Linked DNA regions of Homo sapiens: all the other regions are linked to region 3. The links come from fine-mapping of genetic effects on gene expression. A gene starts in region 3. Each other region holds a variant in brackets. All regions are shown on one strand. Distances are from middle to middle. Region 1 overlaps RNF217-AS1 (RNF217 antisense RNA 1). Region 2 overlaps RNF217 (ring finger protein 217). Region 3 holds the start of RNF217 (ring finger protein 217). Region 4 has its middle 78 kb from the start of RNF217. Region 5 overlaps RNF217 (ring finger protein 217).

Region 1 (5,134 bases), 44 kb before region 3:
AAATGAAAATGAAGAGTCAATACCTTGTGCCTAGTCAAGATTTTTTGCTCCAAAAATGCAGAGGGCTTGAAGAGAGAAGTCAATCCAGGCCTGGTGGCCAACCAGAAAAGACCCCAGAGATCTTTGGCTTTTCCTCAACTCTATGAATTCTCTCTCCCTTGTGGGTTCTTTCAAAGATAAATCATAATCCTGAACATCAGATCCCCTTTCCTTGGTAGTCTCCAAGCAAGCATTCTAGATCAAAATGTCAGAAGGACCTAGAAAGGATTATTCAGCTCTTTAAAAGAACGGCAGATTGCCTGAGATGAATAAGGCTGTGAGGCGCTCCTTCTACTCCACAGTCAGCCTTTAGAATGTGCTCCTTTCAAATTTCTTATGCAGAAGTAAAGAGTAGCTCTAAGTTTGACTAGATTAGGAGCATGCCTGTGTTTACGAAATATTGGTTAAGGCCTACTTTGTGTGATGTAGAGTAAAAAAAATGAGTGAGACAAGGAAGCCACTGTCTTCAAGGAGCTTTGAGAAGAAAAGGAGACAAACTGACATAATAAATATTTGCAAAGCAGCTCAATAAGTATTAGACTCATGGTGTGTTCATTCATTCAGTGATCACTGATTAAGCGTCTTCCATGAACCGTTACTGATTCTAGGATATGGGCTGATATAAATGGATAACATGCACTTGTGCAACTACATATAGAACACTGAAAGTGCACTGCAACCAGAGAAGTGAAAAGGAGCAAGAGCCCTGGATAACTAACATGCAGCATTTATTGAACCTTTTCCATATTTCAGTCACTTTACTAAGCACTTTGCTTTTAACTCATCTATTCCTCATCATATTTTTTGAAATAGGAATTAACATCCTCACCTTATAGTCGAGGACACTAAGGCTTAAAGAGTTTAAGTAATTCACTCACATAATTGCATAATTTTCAGAAGTATTTTTGTCAAACAAATATAATCTGGTATTTGTTGTTTTTAAAATTAGTATCTACATGACAGAAAAAGAAGATATATGAAGAAAGTTCCTATGGACATACTGTAAATATGGTTTCCTCTGGGCAATAAGACTGAAAGAGAAAATAGATGATCAATTTTTACCATTTGTTTCTGATATAGTTTGGTAATTTTTCCCCACCCAAAGCTCATGTTGAATTGTAATCCCCAATGCTAGAGGTAGAGCCTAGTGGGAGGTGTTTGGGTCATGGCAGTGGATCTCTCATGGCTTGGTGCTCTCTTTGCAAATGAGTGAGTTTTCACAAGATCTGGTCATTTAAAAGTGTGTGGCACCTCCCCCACCCCACTTTCTCTCTCTGTGGCTCCTGCTTTGTCCCTGTGATGTACCTGCTTCCACTTTGCCTTCTGTCATGAGTAAAAACTCCTTAACGCCGCCCCAGAAGCTGAGCAGATGCTGGAGTTATGTTTTCAGCGTACAGCCTGCGGAACTGTGAGCCAATTAAACCTCTTTTCTTTATAAATTACCCACTCTCAGGTATTTCTTTTTAGTAATGCAAGAATGACTTAATACAATTTCTTAGTGATGTTTTGAATATTTTTATGACAACTGTCATACATTATTTTGTAGTAAAAAATGTTTTGCTTTAAAAAATGGGGAGGTGGGGAGTTCTCTAAAGTCACACGACAAGAGTTATTCAAACTCTGGGTTTTTTTACTGCAAATATTATATCCTTAGGCACCACATTGTTTTGCATCTAAACTCCAGTATAAAATATGTATAAGCTTCTACCTCCTTTACCTTCTGTAGGGCAGTTCTCTGGGTGCCCCTTTGGACAAACCCAGTTTTTCTGCCTTCCTCCCTTTTAGTTCTCAAGAATAACTGTAGAATGTGCTGGGATAAGGGGGAGCTAGTCCAAATAGCTCTGGCTTGTTCTAACCCCCCAGAAGAGGATGTTCATTAATACTTTAGCTCAGCATGTCATAATCCCCTGGGGCATAAAACCAGGGAAGGCTGTTTTCTGGGGTTTCTCAACTGCCTTGGGTGACTTTCCTGAGCCGTGAAGAACTGGCTCACAATGAATCCCAGGTTTCTGTAAACTCTTGCTGCTATCTATAATAAAATATCTAAATATAACTTGTGTGAGGGGTATTCTGTCTCACTAGATTCAGACAAATTGGTAATCAATGCACAGTGAACCTGTTTCACAACCCTTTTTGAATAATTCATCAGATATAGTTCTAGAGGCCCTGTTTGATGATAATAAAACTTTGTTAATTGAAAGAAAATTAAAAAGCTCTTACTATATTAAAACATGTTCAAACATTCCAACTAAGTCTTTAGAGGCTGGTAATAGAGGTCCCTTAGGAGGCCTGAGTTGCAGAGATCTTGCCTTGTGAGAGACATAGAGCAGACATTATGCTCAAAGAGTGCACA[A/G]GAAGTTCTGTAGCATTCTTTAGTTGTTACTTTGGTTTCGGTTTTGTTTTCCTGACAACAATTAATCTATATAATTCTCCAGGAATTATTTACTACCACTTCCATAATGAAGAGAGCTAGAAAAGAAGGAAGTGAATGTGGCAAGAGTCTTTTACATTTGTGAATTTATATTCTCTGTAGGAAAATAAAAGTCTATTTCTTTTGTGTCCTCCATCTAAGCTAGGTTAGAGTTATCTTCCCTTAGAAATCAAAATAATGGGAAAATGAAACAATTGGCATTCAATTGAAGCAAAAAATAAATAAATAAATGAGTATTAAGTTTGAGAAGCTTGTTGTTCATTGGGTCTAACCACGAAGTGATTAGCTTTCTATATTTAGTTGTCAGAAGAGGGATTTTCACTGGATACAAATATTTAAATGGCTTATTAATGGAAAAAACCAAACTAGAGATTTCAGGATTTGGGATGTGACTTCAAAATAGCAGTAAGAACATTTATTAAATGGTCAACTTTTTAATGCATAAATAAGCTTAGAATTAGAATACTGTAGTATAACTTCTCTTGAGTGTCCTTGTTGCACTTGAGTACAAGCAATCATCACTGCATCCATTTTCATTTTCCCTTGAGCTTGCTTTCCCTAATTAAGAGGGTTAGTAATGGCACTTACAGTTCATCTAATCTGGCTTTAAGTAATTATGGTTCATTGCAGCAATTACAAGTTACATTTATAAAGAACAATAAAGGGGAAAACCTTTCAAATGCAGTTTATTAGGCTTTGAAAACCTGCTACAGAATGGACACTCAATATATATTTACTAGGCAATCAAATACTTTAGTGAGAATATGAATTAAGACTAAGAAATTCACATCCATGACTGTCTTTAAACTGTGACTCCAAACCCATTTCTTCCACAATACTCTCCTAATACCAGAAAAGCACAGCCACTCTAATGCTTCTTCAGCATTGCATATAGACAACCCATAATATTAATTAACATAGTCCATAAAATATGGTTCTTTTAAATATTTCATGTTTTCTTTTCTGTTTATAGTGTTTTCATTTATACGTAAGTTCCATGAGGACAGAAATCATCATCTCTATTTCTTTTGCTTCTTTTGGCAGCTCCTATGCAAAATCTGCCTTGTGCCTTCCTTTTTCCTCACATTTCATTTAAACTCCCCTCCCACTTGGTCATCTTAATATCCTACTAGGGCCCTATTCTTTTGATACGGCCTTCCTGACCATTCTAAAACTGGTTCCTTACTCTATTGATTGCCTACAACATTTTCCACATCTACTACTTTGATTCCTGTATTAGTCTGTTCTCACACTGCTAATAAAGACATACCCGAGATTGAGTAATTTATAAAGAAAAAGAGGTTTAATGGACTCACAGTTCCACACAGCTGGTGAGGCCTCACAATCATGGCAGAAGGCAAAGGAGGAGCAAAGGCACGTCTTACATGGGAGCAGGCAAGAGAGCATGTGCAGGGGGAACTGCCCTTTCTAAAACTGTCAGATCTCATGAGACTTATTCACTATTACAAGAACAGCATGGGAAAAACCTGCCCCATTGATCCTATTACCTCCTACCTGGTTCCTCCCATGACACATGGGGATTATGAGAGCTGCAATACAATATGAGATTTGGGTGGGGACACAGCCAAACTATATCATTCCACTTCTGGCCCCTCCCAAATCTCATGTCCTTACATTTCAAAAACAATCATGCCTTCCCAACAATCCCCCAAAGTTTTAACTCATTCTAGGATTACCTCAAAAGTCCACAGTCCAAAGTCTCATCTGAGACAAGGCAAATCCCTTCCGCCTATAACCCTGTAAAATCAAAAGCAAGTTAGTTACTTCCTAGATACAGTGGGGGTAGGGTACAGGTATTGGGTAAATGCACCCATTCCAAATTGGAGAAATTGGCCAAAATGAAGGACTACAGGCCCCAGGCAAGTCTGAAATCCAGCAGGGCAGTCAAATGATAAAACTCCAAAAGGACCTCCTTTGACTTCATGTCTCACATCCAGATCATGCTGATGCAAGAGTTGGGCACCCACAGCTTTGGGCAGCTCCACCCCTGTGGCTTTGCAGGGTACAGCCCCCCTCCTGGCTGCTTTCACAGGCTGGCATTGAGTGTCTATGGCCTTTCCAGGTGCACGATGCAAGCTGTTGGTGGATCTACTACTCTGGGCTCTAGGGAATGGTGGCCCTCTTTTCACAGCTCCACTATGCAGTGCCGCAGTGGGGACTCTGTGTAGGGGCTTCCACCCCACATTTCCCTTCTGCACTGCCCTAGCAGAGGTTCTCTGTGAGGGCTCCAACCCTGCTGCAAACTTCTGCCTAGACATCCATGCATTTCCATACATCCTCTGAAATCTAGGTGAAGATTTCCAAACCTTAATTCTTGACTTCTGTGCACCCACAGGCTCAACACCACATGGAGGCAGCCAAGGCTTGGGGCTTGCACCGTCTGAAGCAACGGCCTGAGCTGTACGCTGGCCCTTTTAGCCACTGCTGGGACACAGGGCACCAAGTCCAGGGGACTTCACAAAGCACCAAGGCCCTGGGCCTGGCCCACAAAACCATATTTTTCCTCCTAAGCCTCCTGGCTTGTGATGGGAGGGGCTCCCTAAAGACCTCTGGCATGCCCTGGAGACATTTTCCCTAGTGTCTTGGTGATTAACATTTGGCTTCTTGTTACTTATGCAAATTTCTGTAACTGGATTGTATTTC
Region 2 (5,000 bases), 35 kb after region 3:
GCGGGTGCTGTGGCTCATGCCTGTAATCCCAGCACTTTGGGAGGTCGAGGTGGGTGGATCACCTGAGGTCAGGAGTTCGAGACCAGCCTGACCAACATGGCAAAACCCCATCTCTACTAAAATTACAAAAATTAGCTGGGCGTGGTGATGGACTTCTGTAATCCCAGCTACTCGGGAAGCTGAGCTAGGAGAATCATGTGAACCCAGGAGGTGGAGGTTGCAGTGAGCCGAGATCGTGTCATTGCACTCCAGCCTGGGTGATGAGCAAGACTCTTGTCTCAAAAAAGAAAAAGAATCAAGAAAAGAAAAACATTTGGAATATTTCTGGGTTTTTTTTTTCTATTTCTCTTACAGACTATGTACATGTATAGGAATTTTTCCAGATTTTTTAAATCTGGGAAAGGTTTTGTTGCTTCACAAGGCCATGAATCTTTAACCTGGCTTGGTATTGCCAAATTGTTTTCCAAAGTGGTTGTGCCAGTTGATACTCGCTCCACAGCTGATGAAAGTTCCCATTGCTCCATAACCTCAACAGTACTTCATCGTATATTTAAGTGTTTTGCCAGTCTGCAGGGTATGAATAAACATCTCATGATTTTGTGTGTTCATTACCCTCATTTATAATTAGCTTGAGCTTTTTTTATTTTTGAAGATTTTTAATTTTGAAGATTTTTTTAATTTTTGAAGATAATTTATGTTTTCTCTGATGTGCTTTTTCTTATCTTTAGCCCATTTTTCTGTTTCTTGGGTTGTCTCTTACTGATTGATAGGAGTTCTATTTTTTATACCCTCAATACTAATCTTTTGTTAGTTAAATGTGTGTTGTGGATATCTTCTACCAATTCATGGTTTTCTTTTTCTATTTTTATGATGTCTTTTATGAAGAGTTTTAATTATCTTTAATCCATTGCAATCTGAATTCTGTCCCCACAGCTCTGTTGACATTGGCTCTTGAAGGCAAACTTCATAATGAGGGGAAGAGTCAAGTTTTGTGTAACCTGAAGCATATACAGTGTGAGCATACTCTTTAAGACTAAGTTATGAATATAAAGTTAGATGCAAAAGTAAATGATTACAATGAGACTATAAGTCACAACAATTACAAATTTTAAAAGCTACCAAATACTACAAATATTGCAGTTTTAAAATATAACATTCCTCTTAACTGCCTTGTATATCTTTATATTACTTATCTATTTTTTACTATATAAAGCCTGATTACCTTTGTATAATGAAAATTTTGTAATGTAATTTTGAAAGTTGGAGTATAAAAATGATCCGTATTTTCTTTAAATCATCTTAATATGGTTTAGTATTGACAGTGGAGATGCATAAAATATGTTCCTCTTCACACAGACTTGTTTGTAGCACTCCTGCAAGTTTAGGTTCTACAAACACGGACGTGCTGGTAGAGTCTATTTTTTCATCATTTCTGTCAAAAAAGAATTTATTTTCTGTTTTGGTCCGGTGTGTATTCATTTGTTAAACTGATGAGAAGAGAATTTCTGTTTTGACCAGGCATAGAAAAGAGAATCCTCTGTTTAAAATGTTCTGTGTGATGATTGAAAGGATTTTTCTATAGAAGAGTTCACGGCTCCATGTATTTGCATGTATGGCTGCTTCACTACTCGCATGTTCCCCACCCTGAGCTTTATAGAACATGTTGTATTACAATCCTGGTGCTTAAGTCATGACTCCAGGTAAGTCAGCACAAAAGGATGGAAGATATTCCTGGAAATCATTCCTACCCTAGGGCTCTGCCAATTACTTAACCATATGCGAAAGTGACTGTAAATCACATAGACAGGTTCACACAACTCGAGTTAATATATTCCCATCTCAAATACTTCTTAGGCAAATCCGAAAAATGTTCACTCATAGCTGTAGTAATGACAGCAGACACATTGATGAAGGGCAAGTCAGAGTGGAAAGTGACAGGGGTCTTAACCAATTACAGTTAAATCTCTCACTCCTGCAAAAACATCTGACGCATTGAGCACATTCATAGGTCCTTGGAAACAGCCTGTGGCGATGAGATACCTGGACACTAGTTTCAGGGTAAATCCTGCATCTTTAATCTGCTCGCTCTCTCTACAGCCCTGAACACTTTCCCTTGCTTGTTTTCTTTACTTTCTCACCTTTAGTTGTCTCTCCCTCAAAGGCTTTTCTAGACTCTACTAACTTAATGTATTTCTCCAATATCTGCCTTGCTTTTAATTTTTTCATCCTGTAGTATCCCTTTGACCTTACTGATCCCACCGCTTGAACTGTCCTTACCTGTTCTTATGTGACGGTGACTCCAAAATTTCCATGTTGAATCCTGAATGTCTGCCTGACTCCGGCATTCCTTTTCTGATTGTGAGCAAGGGGCATCTCCTAATTGACATGGCTCCTCAGATGCCTCAGATTATATATGTTCAGAGCAAA[C/G]TTTTAATATTTCTTCCAGACCATTCACCACTTCATCCTTTCATGTTCCAGTCATTTCTATTCTCAGCTCTGGGCATTTTCATTCTCCCAGTCACGTAGCCTCAAATCTTCATCATCTCCGTTACCTTATTTTTTCACACTTTACTTCCCTCATTTTGCCCCTCTATTCTCCTATCCCATGGATTCACCTTGTATGTCATTTACATTTGCCTTTTTTCTTCCCTCAGCTCCTTTCCCCCATTTCAGATTCTCTAACAGAGGTACAAACTGCTGTGGGATATGGACAAGGGGAAGTGAAGACGAATTCAACTTTTCCTAAAGCCTCATGTAAATCTGTCTGCTTATCTCCATCTTCACTTTGTCCATGATCCCAAAATTCAGAATTTCTCTACCATTTTTCTATATACATTTTTTTAATATTGGTCATAACATTTAAAAACTGTGTAGAAGGCCAGGTGCCGTGGCTCAAACCTGTAGTCGCAACACTTTGGGAGGCCAAGGTGGGCGGATCATGAGGTCAGGAGATCAAGACCATCCTGGCCAACATGATGAAACCCCATCTCTAACTAAAAATACAAAAAACCTAGTGAAGCATGGTGGCGTGCACCTGTAGTCCCAGCTACTCAGGAGGCCCAGGCAGGAGAATCGTTTGAACCTGGGAGGGGGAGGCTGCAGTGAGCCATCGCACCACTGCACTCCAACCTGGGCAACAGAGCGAGACTCTGTCTCAAAAAACAAAAATTGTGTAGTAATATTTTGTCAACATAAGATTATAAGCACCTGTATGGTTGTAAACATGTAGTGGGCAAGGAATCTATTCTCACTTTGGTCCAGAACAATGCCTTACATGTAATAGGCCCTGAAAAAGTACATGTGGAATTGACTCCTTCAAAAGTGCCTTTTGTTGCCACTTTTTGTTTTCAAAAATAGATACATGTAATTATACCTTTACATATAGTATAGAGCTTGCAGTTGATTTATAGCAGTATTTGACATAAAACACAACTTCTTTCTTAAGGTGACTTCGTGCCTCTAAAAAGCATACTAGGAAAAACATACTGTGTATTATACTGAAGACAAACAAGGCCTAGTGGCCCCTAGTCCAGTTCTGAGACTGGCTGATCTTTGGTATATTTCATTTTAAATTTCCTCTTGTAGGAATGTCATTCCATTTTTAATCTGCCCGTGTCATGAGTTTCTAACCGCAGGTGCACAAGGAAGTTGGCACTTCAAGCTGGCAGGGATTCATTTCTTCCTTAGCTGATTCCCCAGCAGATCCCTTCTCCAGTTTCACTGCATGCTTTCTGTCTTGTGAATTCCTGTAAGTGTATCTCTTCTCTCATCTTTCCCACTTCTTTTAGAAAAAGAGCAAATACAATTGATCTTTACCTTTTTTTTTTCAAGCTTTAAAATTGTGGTTCAAACTCATTGTTATGTTTAGTGTGATCTTGTAGAAAATGCACTGTACTTTAGGCTCATAGACTGTAGTTCTGCCAGAGCCTAAAGTATAACTACAGTCAAGCCAGGTGATCTATCTGTGCCACATTTGCTTAATCTTGAAAGTGAGGGTGAGCCTTAGGGCTGTTCTGTGGATCAAATAAAATGATGAAAACTGCTTTGAAAAGCTTGGAGCAGAATTTTTCAACATTGAGAAATGTTCAGACAACCTTTAAAGGAAAAAATTATCATGGACCCCTGGTGTTGACTTAGCATTGTAACGTTAAAAAAAAATCCAGTTGTACTTTTCACATACTTTATACTTACTTATTTCTCTTATACAGATAAACAGCTATTAAACTATTAAATAAATATATGAAAAAGGTCCCAGAACAATTATACCACCAATAGCTTATTTACAAATTGACAAGATCAGTTTAATGAACAATATTGTTGTTTTTGCTGCTGTTTGCTGAAACTAAATTAGTGTAACTGAGCATTGTACTGATTACTGCCACTGGTCTTGTAATGATTCAGTTCTCTCAAGCTATATCTCTGTTTAAGCTAGAGAAACCTTGGCTTATGGAATGCAGTCCCATTATTTAATATTTACTTTCTGAATTTACATCTCTGTTTATTTTTTTTTAGTGCTTGGCAAATAGTATTAATAGTATAAAACCTTGCCACATCGTACCATTATTTTGAATTTAAATTGGTGTTTTAGTTTGTTTGCGATTCTAGAAACTAAAAATGTATTCTGTTGAATGGTATTATAACATGAATTATTACTTAAAAATTTGTCTTAAAGCTGATTAAAACAAGACTCTTTTACTATAGTGATAGTTGCTGTATATTAGGTTACACTTTGAGAAACACACATAATGTTATATGATATGTTATATATAATACACAATGTGTAAATGTAAGGGGGCATTATAGATATCAGACAATAGTTGTAAATTGTTCAGCCATTTTTATATGATATAATATTCTATAAAGAAAAAATTATTATTTTTTGAAAACAACTACTGATTCATCCTTAAATATTTATTATTTTATAATTTACTAGGGTAATTTTGATCCTCACATTAATCAGGTATTCTAGGAAAATATGGTACATTTCAGATTTGTATGCA
Region 3 (5,127 bases):
ACCACATATTATTCTATTTTCACAAAGGCCCAATGAATTCTGTAGGGAAGAAGTCATGGCAAAATAAAGGGCTGCAGTTTTAAGCAGCAGAGATATGGGCGGCCATCATGAGTCCCAGCAGGGACTTCTAATGGGTTTGGTGTAGAGGACAGCCACTTCCAGTAAGCTGGAACCTAAGGGATAAGGAATAAAATGGTAAACACTGGAAGAACAAGTTCTCAGAATACGAGTGAAAAATGTGTGTGAGGAGGGGTTCCCAAAACTATAAGAGGACTTTGAGGGGTTTTATTCCAATAGACGCTGTGGGAATATACTTTTTGGCATCCATTATTGTTACTCTGGTCTTAGCCTGTTGTCACCTGGAAAATGCAGATTACTTTTATATCTCTGGAAAGAATAGTGGCTTGGTCATCAGATGGCACACTCAAAAGGCACACATAAGTAGGTTTCTTGTCTCTGTCTTTAAAACAATAAGCACTTAAAGTATCATTTGGAGAAAACAGCAGTTACCAGGAAATCACTTAGCTGAGATAAAAAAGAAAAGAATCCTCGAATAGCATTTAATCTTCAAAATAAGAATTTTCCATTCTTGGGTCAGACCGATAGATGACATGGCATTTAGACATCCAATTCATACCTTTGCTTGCAACTGAGCCTCAGACACACATATATGATGGAAATGTTCTTTGGCATTACACTGCTTTCTTAGTTTGCATCGCTAGTCACCTTTGTATCATTTGCATCTGATTTGGAAAATATTTTAGAACAACCCAATAACAACTTCGAGATTAAAAAATAAAATTCTACACACTTTACAGTTCCTTGCTATTACATGAATGTGTAAATTGAATTCCCTCTCAGGAGAAAAAAAACAAAACAAGGGCTGGCTTCCCAAAAATGTTTTCACTGGCTTTAGGGAACTAAAACACCAGTGTCTGGGTGAGTAATACTTCCTGTAAAATAAAGATAGATCAACACATAATTAAGTCCTGGCTCACATATAATTGTTGTTTTGGAAACAGTTTTGAGGATAAATATGGTTATGCTAATGAAACTGCCCATGATTTCCACTAATGATCCAGTTTATTAATTAGGTCAGGACATTTTTCCACCTTGTGCTATCCATTTTGGAATGCTGAAAAGGGTTAAAAAAAAAAACTTCTAAGAGAACACTGTAGGCGAAGAAAAAGAGAGAAATTTTAAATTAGTTATCAACTCTTCTAAGGATTCCAGTTGGAGGAGTAGATCGAAAGTGCTTTTTCGATTATTTATGGGTTTCGAAGATTCTTCCTACTCCACTAGGCAGAAAAACAGAGTTGTAATATACAGCATTTAGAATTCATAATCCTTAGCATTATTTCTCTGAACTCGACATCCTAAATAGCCAGCGTTTACTAATTCCAGAGCTGAGTGTAGTTTTGTAGGAAGTTCTACTGAATGCGGAGACCAAAGGGGAGCCTGCCTGCTCTGAGGGTTTTGTTGAGGCTGAGTGTGAACTCCGGGCGAGAAAGCGCATCTCAGCTCTTAGATCACACCCACTCAGGGTGTGCGTGTGTGTGTGCGCGGGTGCCTGCGCGCGTGTGTACGTGTGGGGAGGTGTGCGCCAAAGGGGTGGGGTGAGGGGCGGCGAGGAGGGCTGTAGGTGAAGCGCGGGGAGAGGGAGGTCGCCCGCTCCGGCCTCTCCCCCAGGGGCCCTGCGGCTGGCCAGCGCTCCGGCTGCACCTCCTGGTGCGCGCCGCGGCGGCGCCACAGGCCCCTCGACCCTTTGACCACCGCCCTCGGGCCGCGCGTCCGGCAGCCGGGACCGGTGATGGCGCGGGACTGACGGCCGTCTCCTCCCAGACCCCTCTGTCCCGCCTGGGGCTCGCTGGGGCTGCGGCGCCGCCCCGAGCTGCATGTGGGGCGGGCGCGCCCGAGCCCAGAGCGAGCGGCCCTCGGCGCCCCCGAGGCGGTGCCCCGCCGCGCCAGAGTACGAGGAGGAGCGGCGGGCCGGGCCAGGCTCCCCACGCGCCGCAGCCTCGGAGCACGGGCTCCCCGGAGGGGACTTGGGGCGTCCCAGCCCAGGAGGAAGGACCCGGAAGCAGAAGCGGAGCCGCGAGTCGAGCCGAGCCACTGCCCCCGCTGCCCGCGGGCGCCGGGTGGGGGTCCCGGCGGCTGGATGGGCAGCGGCGGCGCGGGCCGCGGGCGGCGATGGGCGAGGAGCAGAGCACGGTGAGCGGCGGCGGCGGGCCCCAGGAGTCGCAGACCCTGGCCAGTGGCACTGCGGGCCACCCTGAGCCCCCGAGGCCTCAGGGGGACAGCGCCCGGGCGCCCCCGCTGCGCGCCGCCTCCGCGGAGCCGAGCGGCGGTGGCTGCGGAAGCGACTGGGGCTGCGCGGACACCAGCGCCCCAGAGCCCGCGAGGAGCCTGGGGCCCCCGGGCTGGAGTAAGAGCCGAGCACCGGCGCAGCCTGCGGGACTGGCACTCACCGGGCCTCTCAATCCCCAGACCTTGCCACTGCAGTTGGAGCTGGAGGAGGAAGAGGAGGAAGCTGGGGATCGAAAAGAGGGAGGGGATGAACAGCAGGAGGCGCCCCCCGGCGAAGAGCTGGAGCCCAGGACCCGCGTGGGGGCCGCCGACGGACTGGTCCTGGACGTGCTGGGTCAGCGGCGCCCGTCCCTCGCCAAGAGACAAGTCTTCTGCTCCGTGTACTGCGTGGAGAGCGACCTGCCCGAGGCCCCCGCCTCGGAGCAGCTCTCGCCGCCCGCGTCGCCACCTGGGGCTCCGCCAGTGTTGAACCCTCCCAGCACCCGCTCTTCCTTCCCCAGCCCCCGACTGTCCCTCCCAACGGATTCCCTCTCCCCCGACGGCGGCAGCATCGAGCTGGAGTTCTACCTGGCGCCCGAGCCGTTCTCCATGCCCAGCCTGTTGGGAGCTCCACCCTACTCTGGCCTGGGCGGTGTAGGGGATCCCTATGTGCCCCTCATGGTGCTGATGTGCCGGGTGTGCCTGGAAGACAAGCCCATCAAGCCCCTGCCTTGCTGCAAGAAGGCCGTGTGCGAGGAGTGCCTCAAAGTCTACCTGAGCGCCCAGGTAACTTCACCCCCTTCTCTTCCCCATTTATCATTCCAAATCACTGGCGAGGAGGTCCTGCTCTCGATCTGATCTCCCTGCTCGCGCGAAGAGGTGACCGACACACTTACTGAGGATCTCTGTTAGTTTCTCACGTCTCAGTTGTTATTTAAGTGTATTATGACCTCACTGGTTTACTTAACTGGAATTTAACTTTGCTGTGAACTTCAGGCTATGGTTGGCATGTGTAGAAGGCACAAGATACAAGTTGTTGCCCTCCTCTTATTTCTTATACAGGATTGCAAGCACAAGCTTGCTCAAAGGAGGAGAGGAAGAGACTGCCTCATCGGCCTGGTATCCCAGAAACTAACAAGCAGTGGGCATAGAATAAATATTTATGGAGCTGGTGGAGAAAAGAATTGGAATAAATATTTCAGACCCATAATACATGAATTTGTAATTTTGCTTCATTTGTATATTCCAGGAAAGAGTGAATGTTTAAAAAAATGTATCCCTTGGCCTTTGCCTACTTTTCAGTTTCCTTTTTCCACAGTAAAGTTGAAGTACTTTTCTTTCACTGAGGTTTTAAGCCAGCACTCTTTAAGAGGGAAGCAAAACAGAAAGAGCAAAACAAAGCAAAGAGAGGCTAAGAGGTTTCTCAGAACAAGCACTGGTGAAACTTTCCTCCTCTGCTTTTATTTGAAAACTTGGTTTTTTTTCTTGGAAAGCTTGAGAGTGCACCAGACCAGCTTTCCTTCACTGACGGTGAATGCGTTCTTCCAGCAGTTTTCAATCTGTGATGTTTCTGCCAGTGTTTTGCACAATCCTGGATGCCCTTTGATCCTGTGTCCAATTGTCCTAGGCCTATTCATCTTTCAAAACCCTGTGTGTTCAGGTGCCAACTCTTCTGTGAAGCGTTGCCTCACCCTCCAAGTCACTGCTTATATACTTTCACAGTATCTTATATTATCTTACATGCACTGAAGTTGTTTCTTTCGTGTCTGCTTGTCTTGTTAGACTGTCTGGACAATGTCTTAGAGTCCCATATGTGGTAGCTTCATGTTGAGTCCCTTGCCCATCATAGTGTTTTTAATAACATTGGCTGGGACAAACTGAACAGGGCTCCGTACCATGTGATTCCTCTATGTTTTTTGGCTAACTCATGCTTGGGTCTAGACTGAAAGTGTGTACAGTCCCTAACTAAAAATGCAAACAAAGACTTAAAACGGTATGTTACATAAACAGTAAGTTGGCTAAAATAGTTGGGATTATTTAAAAGCCTCTGAGAGACTGTTGTTTCTTTCATGCTTTATCTACAGAGATTCTTAAAACAGGAGGAATGTCTGCTGCTGGTTGTGGTAGTTTCTGTATCATCATCCTCAAAACAGATTTCGCTGCCCTGCGATGGGATTCAGACATTTCCAAAATATAAGCCCGCCTCCAGGGAAGTCACTGTGAGAGCAGATGTGTACAAAAGAACAATACAAGGTAGCATGGGATGAGATGTCAATAGAGTAACAATTCCAGATAGCACTTCCTGTTAAATGCTGGATACACATTCCAGAAATTCAAGGGAGGTAGTCATTGTGGCTTGGGGTACTTTACCTAGCAGTTTGATTTCCTTATGGTGGGCCCTTTCCCCAAAGCAGTTTTCTTTTTCTTTATTAAACCTCATAAGTTAGTTTTAGGAAGTTTTAGTAATGGTAGTAGGGAGACAGAGGGACATAGTCAAGTGGTCATTGCAGTGTACAGTACAACCACTAAAAACTCCTCTGCAGTGACACAGTATCTGAAGCTTGTCTGCAGCATTTCTGATTGTATGTATGTGCCTGACCTTCTTCCAAAGTATTTGCTGGGACTTTCAATAAATAATAATACACATTATTGGCCGGGTGCGGTGGCTCACGCCTGTAATCCCAGCACTTTGGGAGGCTGAGGCAGGTGGATCACCTGAGATCGGGAGTTCAAGACCAGCCTGACCAACATGGTGAAACCCCGTCTCTACTAAAAATACAAAATTAGCTGGGCATGGTGGCGCATGCCTGTAATCCCAGCTACTTGGAAGGCTGAGGCAGA
Region 4 (5,134 bases), 79 kb before region 3:
ATTTCTCTGTTTTTGCTTTTGATTAATGCAAACCCTACTAGTTGATCAAAGAATTCAACTAACTTTCAAACATCTTAAATATCTCTTAGGTTAAAGGTCAAGATCCTCAGTCAAAAGAACAAGGAAGAATTATGGTCTTTAAAACTTTGAACTCTGTGATATAATCTTAAGTTATCATGTTCAAACTTTCTAAGTGACAAAAACAGCAAACTTGGGAAATAGCTATAGAAGGAGAGAACCAGATTTGGGAAATGCAAAACTGGCTGGCCTTCTTTACAAAGAAAAGCAACTTGAGAGTGAGTCACATTTGAATACCCAGTAGCCAATATAGACAAATTCATATAATATAAAAAGGCATCATTTTCTATCCCTGAACTACAATAATAATACTTCCACACAAATTTGAACTAGAGCAATTGATTAACTTGCTAATTCTTTATTCCCAGGTGACAATAAATGGCCCTTATCCTGCCCAAGGATGGAATAGGTTATAGGGTGAACATAAATGGTTGAAAGTTATTGGAGAATAGATGTGCTGCCAGATTACCATTTACAGAACTGACTCACTATGTTTCTTAGACATCCTGGGTAGGTTCCCTATTTATCACATGGGGTTCATAGAACTTGTAGGTAAAAATAGATGAACCCTCACGTAAAATTTAGTACATGGCATCTAACACTCAAACAGTAATCATATTAGTATCCAAATTGGAATTGACTTTGTGACAGATTTCAAATAGCAGAGTCCTGCAAAGCAATTGCAACATGTCTATGCATTCCTAGCAAATCTGAAAGCACATTCAAAATACTGATGCATCTGGTTTTCCCTCAGGCGACAGCTGCAGCTGCTCAAGTTTGCTGGAGAGTCTGAAGTGACAGCCCCCTCCTGGCTGGCAGCATCACTCTCATTCAGAAGAGAGATCACAGAGCCTAGATCATTTCTGCCTTTGATGTGCATCTCCTAGACGTCAGCAGGAGACTAGACGGCTTGTCAGGAATGAGATTAGAAACCTGCAAAGCAAGAACCTTTTCCTAAGATTTTTCAACTATCCCTGTTGTTACTGGACAGACTCAGGAAAGAGAGAAAAATGCATCTGAAATCTCTACCTTCTAAGGCTTTCGTTGAGAAGAAAAAAGCAAGCCCAAATGTATGAGCCTTTGTGCTGAAATCTATGTGAAAGAAAGAAAAAGATAAGAAAAGCAAAGAAAGAGAGAAAAAAGAAAAAGGAAGGAAGGAGAAAGAGAAAGAAAGAGAGAGAAAGAAAGAAAGCAAGCAAGCAAGCAAGAAAGAAAGAAAGAAAAAAGAAAAAAAAGAAAAAAAAAGAAAGAAAAGTGAGATTGTATCTTAAATGGCTCCAGGGTGGGGCAGGAGGAGTTTAAGAAAACATAAGCAGGCTACACTTTTCCCTTTTTTTTTCAGCGACTTTTTTCTACACAGGATTTCCTGATCACATCATGAGGAACTATGTAAATATGCCCTCTTTGACTCAGTGGAAATAATCATTTCCTGTCAAGTTATTTCAAGGAAGGAAAAAGACCCCCAAACAGCCAAAACCAGAAAAGTACAAATTGTCAAATGAAATTTCATAAGGGACAGTTTTCAAGTGAGTCAAGCATTATTCTGTAATTCGTTCTTAACTTGGTTGCCTTTGTTTTGTATTGTTTTGTTGGTCAAATACATTACTTACATTGCGAAATACCCTGGCATCTCATCTTGTAATCATTGCTCAAAATAAAGTTCACTTCTTGAAAGGTTTGGAATTTATACCAAGCCTGTAGTGATTTATAGTTCAAAAACACTTCCTCTTTCTCTCCATTCTCATCCTCACACTGTTTTGTTTATTGTGAAAGTGGTAGATACAGGTGTGAGTGTCCAGCTTACGACAGGAAAATTTTTCCACACTAGAACAAAACAAAATTAACCCATGGAAATAGATTGATCATTTGCCTTTTCATCTAGACAATTATCTTTCTGTCTTTCTCTCTTACTCTATCACTAACTTACAACATTTAATACTTTTATATCTGTGCTATTCAAATCTTTTGAGCAGTAGCCTGAGGGAGTCAGCCATTTCCACCTTCTTGAAGTGTACTTAGTATTTCTTTAGCATATCATTGGCAAACAGAGGTAATTTGACATTCTCTTTTCCTATTCGGATGCCTTTTATTTGTTTCTCTTGCTTGGTTGCTCTGGCTGGGATTTCCAGTACTATGTTAAATAGGAGTGGTGAAAGTGGACATCCTTGTCTTGGACATAAAGATGGAAACAATAGACACTGGGGACTCCAAAAGGGCGGAAGGAGGGAGAGGGACAAAAGTGGAAAAACTACCTACTGGGTACTATGTTCACTATTTGGGGCTCAATAGAAGCCCCAAACTCAGCAGCATGCACTTTACCCATGTAAAAAACCTGCACAAGTACCTCTTGAATCTTAAAAAAAAAAAAAAAAAAAAAATCTAGCCAGGTGTGGTGTGTGGTGGCTCACACCTGTAATCCCAGCACTTTGGGACGCTGCGGCGGGCGGATCACGAGGTCAAGAGATCAAGATCATCCTGGCCAACACGATGAAACCCTGTCTCTACTAAAAATACAAAAATTAGCTGGGCATGGTGGCGTGTGCCTATAGTCCCAGCTACTCAAGGGACTGAGGCAGGGGAATCGCTTGAACCCAGGAGGCAGGGGTTGCAGTGAGCCGAGATTGTATCACTGCACTCCAGCCTGGTGACAGAGTGAGACTCCATCTCAAAAAAAAAAAAAAAAAAAAAAAAAAAAAAATCCTTACAGCTGTTCACGGCTCCCTTAGGCAAATGGTCTCTCTCTCTTTCTCTCTCTGTCTCTCTCTCTTTTCCCATCACATCCTGGGAAGCTGTCTCTTATATTGGCACTCACCTGGATATAAATTATAGAGGCACTTACTCTTCTGTCGTCCCCTGATTTAAAATAAAAAAAGAAAAATAAACAAAGATTCAGGCTAGCTGATATTCCACAGTGTTTTTTTTTTTAAAAAAAAAAAAAGATAGCAGAGAGATTTT[T/TA]AAAAAACATCTTTGAAGAATATTCATTCATAGCCTGGCTAGCAAAAATGAGAAGCTAGAGGCTGCATACTTAGTCCTTATACACATTTGCTTGACAGAAAATGTTACAACTGGTATAATATGTAGTGTACTTGTAGGCAACTAAGTTCTTACAAAGCTCCTAATTTAGAACAGCATTTCTCAGTGTTTTGTTAAACAATAGCACCCCTAGATACATTACAATAGAGAGAGAAGAGGCTCTTGTCAAGAAAATTTAAACTGCTTTATACCATGTACATACATCTCTTGGAGATTTATAACGTACATTCGGGTAGGAAAAACAATACTAGAAAAGCCACCTTAATTCTTTTTAACCACATTTTTCCCAAAGTTGACAATGAAATTCTTTTTAAACATAATTCTTACTAATATTCTACAGAACCTGTGTTTTATTAAACTCCCCTTTAGGAATCACAAATTTAGAGCATATCTAAACTGCACTAGAAGAAAAGAGTCTAATCAGATTAAAAGCATTTGGCATTCATTTCTAAGATTATAAATTATGTATATTTTTCCCAATTAATCTAATCCCCTTGGCTTGCTATAATGCTTGCTACTACTTTAAAGTAAATGATATCCAGCGGCTTTATTGTTCTTCCACACATATTCTTCCACTGAAGTAACTGAATGATTCCACCACCACAGGTGATCCAAAACATAAGGTGTATGCCTTATCAGAGAATGAGACACCAAAAACTAGCTCACTCTCGTTGAACTGTTGAAGTCAACTGTACATCAACTATTTGAAAAATGGAAAAACTAGAGCAAATTCTTTGGAGACATAAACAAACTTTGCTAGTTTGCTTACTCATCCTTAGGCCTGTCCTCATACCTCAGCCCTTTTCCAATTCACCTCACACCAATCATATAGTCATTTCTTTCTTCAGCAGGCAGTAGGTTTATAGATTAAATGATGCTTGGTATTAAAATATCTGGAGGCTGTCACCCACCCACAGAGATTATTGAGGCAGGATCCTTTACCTCAATGAGCTTAAAAACTAGAAGCAGAGAAAATGCATAAACAATGAATGGAGTAATACCCATTATGGTAGGAGTTTCTAGGAAGTTCTCTGCAAGCCCGGTGGAAAGTGGCTCAGTGCTATGAACTGAATGTTTGTGTCTCCCCAAACTTCACATGTTGATATCCTAACCCCTAGTGCAACGATATTAAGAGGTGGGGTGGGAGATAATTTAGATCATGAAGGTACAGCCCTAAAACAATGGGATTTGTGCCTTTCTAAAAGGGACTCCAGAGTACTCTCTTGCTCTCTTTCTGCCTGAGGAACCAAGGAGAAGTCAGTCTGCAGCCTGGAACAGGGCCCTCAGCAGACCCTGACTATGTGGGCACACTGATTTCAGACTTCTGGTCTCTAGAACTGGGAGGAGTAAATTTCTGTTGTTTATAAACCACCCAATCTACGATATTTTATTACAGCAACCCTAATTGACTAAGATTCTCAACCTCGGCCAGGCGCGGTGGCTCATGCCTGTAATCCCAGCACTTTGGGAGGCCGAGGCGGGTGGATCACGAGGTCAGGAGATCGAGACCATCCTGGCTAACACTGTGAAACCCCGTCTCTACTAAAAATACAAAAAAAATAGCTGGGCGTGGTAGCAGGCGCCTGTAGTCCCAGCTACTCGGGAGGCTGAGGAAGGAGAATGGCGTGAACCCGGGAGGCGGAGCTTGCAGTGAGCCGAGATGGCGCCACTGGACTCCAACCTGGGGGACAGAGCCAGACTCCGTCTCAAAAAAAAAAAAAAAAGGATTCTCAGCTTCAGCCTCAGGGAGGTCCAGAAGGTTCACAAGGAGGTGAAATTAGATGTGGATCTTGAAGAATGAGTAAGAGTCTACCAAACAGAATATAGGAAGAAGGCTCCAGACAATGCAAACTGCGTATTGCACACAGAGGTATCAAACACAATTGTGCATTTGGAGCTTTCCGCATGGTTGAAATGGAGAGTACATGTTAAAACTGGCAGGTGATGAGACTGGAAAGGTAAGCTGGGGGCAGCCGATGAGGAACATCCCTTTGCAAGTTAAGCAATTCAGACTTTCCAGGGG
Region 5 (5,134 bases), 130 kb after region 3:
ATCCTCCCTCCTCTGCCTCTGGAGTAGCTGGGATTACAAGCACGTGCCTACTATGCCTGTCTTCAAAATCACATTGTTAATTTTTATAGCCACAATTATTAATTTGATAAAACAAATAATTTTATAGAAGCATTAAAGTATTATCAGAACAAAATCAGAGTTCCAAAATTTGGGGAGTATTTTAAGATTGTGAAATGTTACCTTTTGGATGCAAACCAATGATACAAATCTTTAAGAAAGAATTACAGTGGGACTCCTTTGAAACTCTGATTTTGAAAATAGAACAAATACACATTTCATAGCCAAACTTTGTGTGGGACTTCTATTGTTACTAATTGTAAGGCTGTAACTTTGGTTGACTTCATCCAAATCCAAGAAACAGAGTCACAGTAGTGAGACTATTCTCATTGCTTCTTTGGAGCATTAGCTGAAGCTTTACCATATCACATACCTTACAAAATCCCTATACATATTGCCAGTTTTAAAAGAATGTAATTATGCATGTTACAAACTATATATATCTTTTTGGCTAGAGAAGTGACTATTTTAGAATAACAGTATGAATGTAAAAGGCAATAATTTTTTTTAAATACACAAAACATTGCCATTGCCCTTTTTTGTCACTTCCTTTTTTCTTCTAAAAATTTTCATTTGGTGTATCTAACTTTGTATCACTTAAATTATTCAGACTTACTAAGATAAAAAATACTTTTTTTCAGTTCTGTGCTATATTCTGTCACTCTATTCCATTATTAATACTAAATGACTTTCCTTGTGAAATGATACCCACATACTACAACATCAAGCTCCTTTTTCTCTTAAATTTCCTAATTATCTTGATTTTTGCCTCTGCAGTCTTCTTCCCATCTTGGCCAAGTGTGGGATAAATTCTGTCTCGCCCGTAACTCCTTTCACTGTAATGAAATGAATTCAACACTGAACGCACTCCAGAATTTAGCTCTGGTAGTGAGCATAATTTACCTTGGCTTATTTTATTTGTAAATGGAAATGTATCAGGAGTGCCTGGAACACTTTTCCCTCTTGATAGGAGTTGGAGAACACTGCCTAGCCCTCTGCCAAGAAGTAAGTCAAGCAAATGAAGATACCAGTTGGATCAGAGGGCCTAATAATAGTCTAAAACCAAGCTTCAGAAATTGCTTCGTGACTGTTGTAAGATCAATATTGTGTTTGCGTATTAGTTGGACAGAAAGCATGTGTGGACATTCATCCAACCTGACCCCAGGTCATTCATTCTCCATCCAAAAAGGGTTATAGGTATGGTTTATGGTCTTTGTTTCAGCAAAACGTCCTACAGCTTGGACTTGGGGTGGATTTATATAGTGTAGCATTTGTATATAAGATTCAATTATGGATTCATGCTCTGTGAACATTGTTAGATTTTTAATAATCTAAAGTAGGTCACATTGAATGTAACTGATATTAACCCTATTCTAGAGAAAACATTTGTCATTTGCAAGTGTTTGACTTTTTTATTGATATGATTTAGATATGCCACACTCAATATATTTAGTATAGATTCAGTACATAACAGGAAAGAAAAAGGGAGAGACAGACTTGAGTGTTAAAGGACCCCAGAAATTGCTGAAATGTCCTTTTAGATTCTTGTGGCTGGCAAGCTATGCTGTCATTGGTTCTCTGCGAATCTGTGATGTGTTCACTTCGCCATGCCCCAGCTTGGGAAATATTCTTAGTAATCCAATCAAATCCTTAAAAACAGCATTTTTGTGAATGTATTACTTCTTCAATATCCCCATATATTTGTATTGTTTCAAGCCACTAGTATCTAAATTTTTGATATAAATATCTAAATTCTTTCATTTTATAGAAAATTAGCATGCTTTATGTTTCTTTATAATGAAAAGTCTAGATAAAGTATCATAATTTCATTATCAGCTGACAAGAAACCCTTCTAAGACCCATTTTTTTAAGTGTCATATGGCAACTCCTCAATAGCTTACTTTTATTATTTGATCATTTTCATCACAATTGCAATCCTCTAGAGGGTATTTTAAAAAGTAGACCAACCTTATGTTTCACGTGAAACATAGAATAATAATTAGTTTGTATATATATAAAACCATTTACCTTGACAAGGACAATCTGTTACAGATTTTTAATATGAAAATTGACAATTTTGTTGCTTTTAGAAGCAATTAACATAGTAATTAGTAAATTCTGAGAGATGACAGAAATGATTTTCTGTAGAAGGAACACAACAGTGATGTTAAAATGTTAACAAAGAACCAGTTGTTTTGATTCTATTTTAAACAAAATTGTAAGGCAATTTTATGAAACAAACATTTATATCAATGTATATCTATTTCAAAACTGTGGGACAATTATTCATTCTTTTCCCAAATAGAGTAAAATATTAAAGAGAAAAAAATTCGAGTGTTTATCTGTTATTACTGTATATTCAGAAATTACAGTTCTAAGGAATTATTGTCATCCTCTAAGTATCAGAATGTATTCCATTTTAATTATATTCTCCTTAACAATAGAAAATTAGAAGAAATTTCTTGATCATAAGATGAATAGTAATTTGTACCAGATCTTGTCCATCATTTCATTAGATTGCATATTTTTAGTTTTCTATAAAATTTGCAGCCATTTTCCAAATAAAGTAAGTTATAATATTTTTCAAGTTTAAAATGGACC[G/T]GGTTGAAAAGAGATTTCATTGATTCTTTTTAATGATATTGGAAAATATTTATGCAATTTTATTTTTTAACCTTTTCTCCATTTCATTAGTTATACTATTAACTTTGATAATCACAAAACTATGTGGAAGAAATCATTCTGATTATATTTTATGAAAGAGAGGGGTAGAGTAAATTTTTTAATTAGACAATGTTGATATGCAGAAATCTCTCAAAAGAAATTGCAAAGGAAAAATTACGTTGAGATGAAATGTTGAGAAATAAGGAGTATCTTAAAAACCTAATTTCTTACACTTTTTAGAGCAATCAACTTATTTCCAAATTATTATTTCATGCTGTTGTTTCCATGAATTGTGTTTTTAGCATAGTATATACTTTTCTACCACGTTAGCATTTACACTCTAATTACTGAAAATAAAGGAAGAAGTTGGTGAATAAAAGCCAGGGAAACTGGGTTTATTCTCATTTTCCAATAGCACTAATGTATAATCCCTTTAACCTTCCATATGGTGCTTTGTGTGATGAGTATATAACATTCATATACGTTATTAGTGCCTTATTTTTTTCACTTGACTTTATTTCTTATCTAAAGAGCCATATATTTTTTGTGAGTGTTCTTTGGTCCCTCTATTTAAAGTGCTAAGGAGAAAGCATATCTTTAGGGATGTATATAGGCTGCGTTTGCTACCTTAATCTACTGTATTATCTCTAAAACAGGTTAGCCAATGTATTTTTCTTAAATTCATTGTTCATTTTTAAGCTAACCTATACAAATGGATATTAAACACCAGAAATTAAAGCCATTAAAATTGAATTGTACTTTAAAACCATAAAAAATGCTAATTAAGTTTAGAACAGGAGTTGAAATGACTCTCAGTTTTATCTATAGCTCCAATTAGGACAAAATTACTTTACAAAAAGCATTAAAAATAAAAGTAACTGTATGGTACTTCAGGAATTTGACCAGTTCCTTACAACTTATTCTTGGCAATATTTTGTCAGTAATATACTTTCATACAGATGCTAGAGAACCATGGTGTCTGCTATTTACATGTTATTTGTTCCCAGTGAGCTTTATCAACATCAACCCTGTTTATATAATATGTTATTTTGCTCTTCTTGATCTGTGCCTTTTGTTTTAGCTTTATACAAAATGCTAGGTTTGTTATATTCTTTATGTATCATAATATATAATTCAACTTTTCCTGATGAATGTATGCTGAATAATTAAACTAAACCATGTGCTTAGAAAAGACAAAGACAGGTTGTATATGCAGTTATGTGTAAATATTTGACAAAGAAAAAAAAAGGAAAAGAATCTTCCTGCCAACAGGTAGGTCCTGCTGGACAGGACCTGAAAATTAAGAGATTTTTTTTTTTAAGCAGTGAAATTTAAAAATCTATTACCTCAAGAATTTTCAGTCGATATGTCAATGTACTGTTCCTTCTCAGTAAGTACAGTGTCACATGCTGCTGGCGGTAAAAGCAACCCAAGTGTCAGATCACACAAATTTTAGGGACAAGTCTTTCAAAAGACGGACACCTTGTGATATTTTGGAGTCTAATTTCCGACTTTTCGTAATGTCCCAATGACCTTTTGTTGTGGTTGGGCTTTTATAAAAAATTATTTTCGGTTGGTTGTTGTAGAATGGAAGAGTAATCTTAATTATGAAATCAGATTGCATGGAAGAATATAAAGACACTCACTCGGATGAAAACTATAACGGTTTTCAAACTATTTTGATGGTCATTGTACGAGCTATTGTATGGATTACTGTGGAGTGCTGTTTACCACATGATGTGTGCAATACATCATGCAATGTTATTTAGCAATGCGTAATAAAAGTTTTTAAAAGAGAAAATTCTTGTCTTTTTTTCCAATAGGTTTGGATTTTTAAAAAATTAAAAATAAAACTTCACAGCAACAAAACTATTGTGCCTACAGTTACTGGAGTAATTTCTACATTGGACTCTAGAAATGGAGGAGCAGGAATGAACAGAAATTCAAGGGTGTGCTTTTGGGAAGGTGGATTGTGTTGTGTTGCTGTGGCACGTTTTGGGGAAAGAGCACAGAATAGTGAAGATCAGTGCAAACATTCTGCATGAGGCATGAAAAAGAAGCAAATAGTGTGGAAGTAAGAGATCAGCTTAGGGTGGTCTTTACTCTCTAGACCAAGGGGCCTATACAGGGGTGGGAAAGCAGAAACCACTAAACTGCTAAAGCCAAATATATACGCCTACTCTATAACCTAGCAATGATTTTCCTAGATCTGTCACTAAGGAAAGAATGGCCTTTGTTGACCAAAGGGTAAGTACAAGAATTTTCCTTAACAGTAAAATCATGAATATATTGTGATATATTCATAGAATGGAATATTATAGAACAATTAGAATGAAAATAATCTTAATTTTGAAAAATTACAGAGCAATCTATGCAAAAATACAGTTGACTCTCA

Evidence for each region. PIP is the estimated chance that this variant, and not a neighbour inherited with it, causes the effect. A credible set is the group of variants that fine-mapping cannot tell apart.
Region 1: its variant is the best candidate, but not a certain one, in a credible set for the expression of RNF217 in T cells (TOPMed, PIP 0.75).
Region 2: its variant is the best candidate, but not a certain one, in a credible set for the expression of RNF217 in sun-exposed skin (GTEx, PIP 0.85).
Region 4: its variant is the best candidate, but not a certain one, in a credible set for the expression of RNF217 in esophagus mucosa (GTEx, PIP 0.75).
Region 5: its variant is the best candidate, but not a certain one, in a credible set for the expression of RNF217 in left ventricle (GTEx, PIP 0.54).

What each region holds. Positions count from the first base shown.
Region 1 is chr6:124,916,021-124,921,154 of GRCh38, forward strand. RNF217-AS1 (RNF217 antisense RNA 1) reads right to left here. Exons shown (of 7, transcript NR_026876.1): 6 at 4,168-4,228. Among named protein-coding and RNA genes, the nearest start is that of RNF217, 44 kb to the right of the region's middle. The variant A/G (reference allele first, on the strand shown) is at 2,393.
Region 2 is chr6:124,995,642-125,000,641 of GRCh38, forward strand. The region is part of intron 1 of RNF217 (ring finger protein 217); the gene reads left to right. Among named protein-coding and RNA genes, the nearest start is that of RNF217-AS1, 35 kb to the left of the region's middle. The variant C/G (reference allele first, on the strand shown) is at 2,428.
Region 3 is chr6:124,960,355-124,965,481 of GRCh38, forward strand. It overlaps RNF217 (ring finger protein 217), which reads left to right and starts at 2,083. Exons shown (of 6, transcript NM_001286398.3): 1 at 2,083-3,072. The coding sequence starts at 2,191. It overlaps RNF217-AS1 (RNF217 antisense RNA 1), which reads right to left and starts at 2,673. Exons shown (of 7, transcript NR_026876.1): 1 at 2,469-2,673.
Region 4 is chr6:124,881,521-124,886,654 of GRCh38, forward strand. No RefSeq gene overlaps it. Among named protein-coding and RNA genes, the nearest start is that of RNF217, 78 kb to the right of the region's middle. The variant T/TA (reference allele first, on the strand shown) is at 3,034.
Region 5 is chr6:125,088,094-125,093,227 of GRCh38, forward strand. RNF217 (ring finger protein 217) reads left to right here. Exons shown (of 6, transcript NM_001286398.3): 6 at 1-4,540. Among named protein-coding and RNA genes, the nearest start is that of TPD52L1, 63 kb to the right of the region's middle. The variant G/T (reference allele first, on the strand shown) is at 2,680.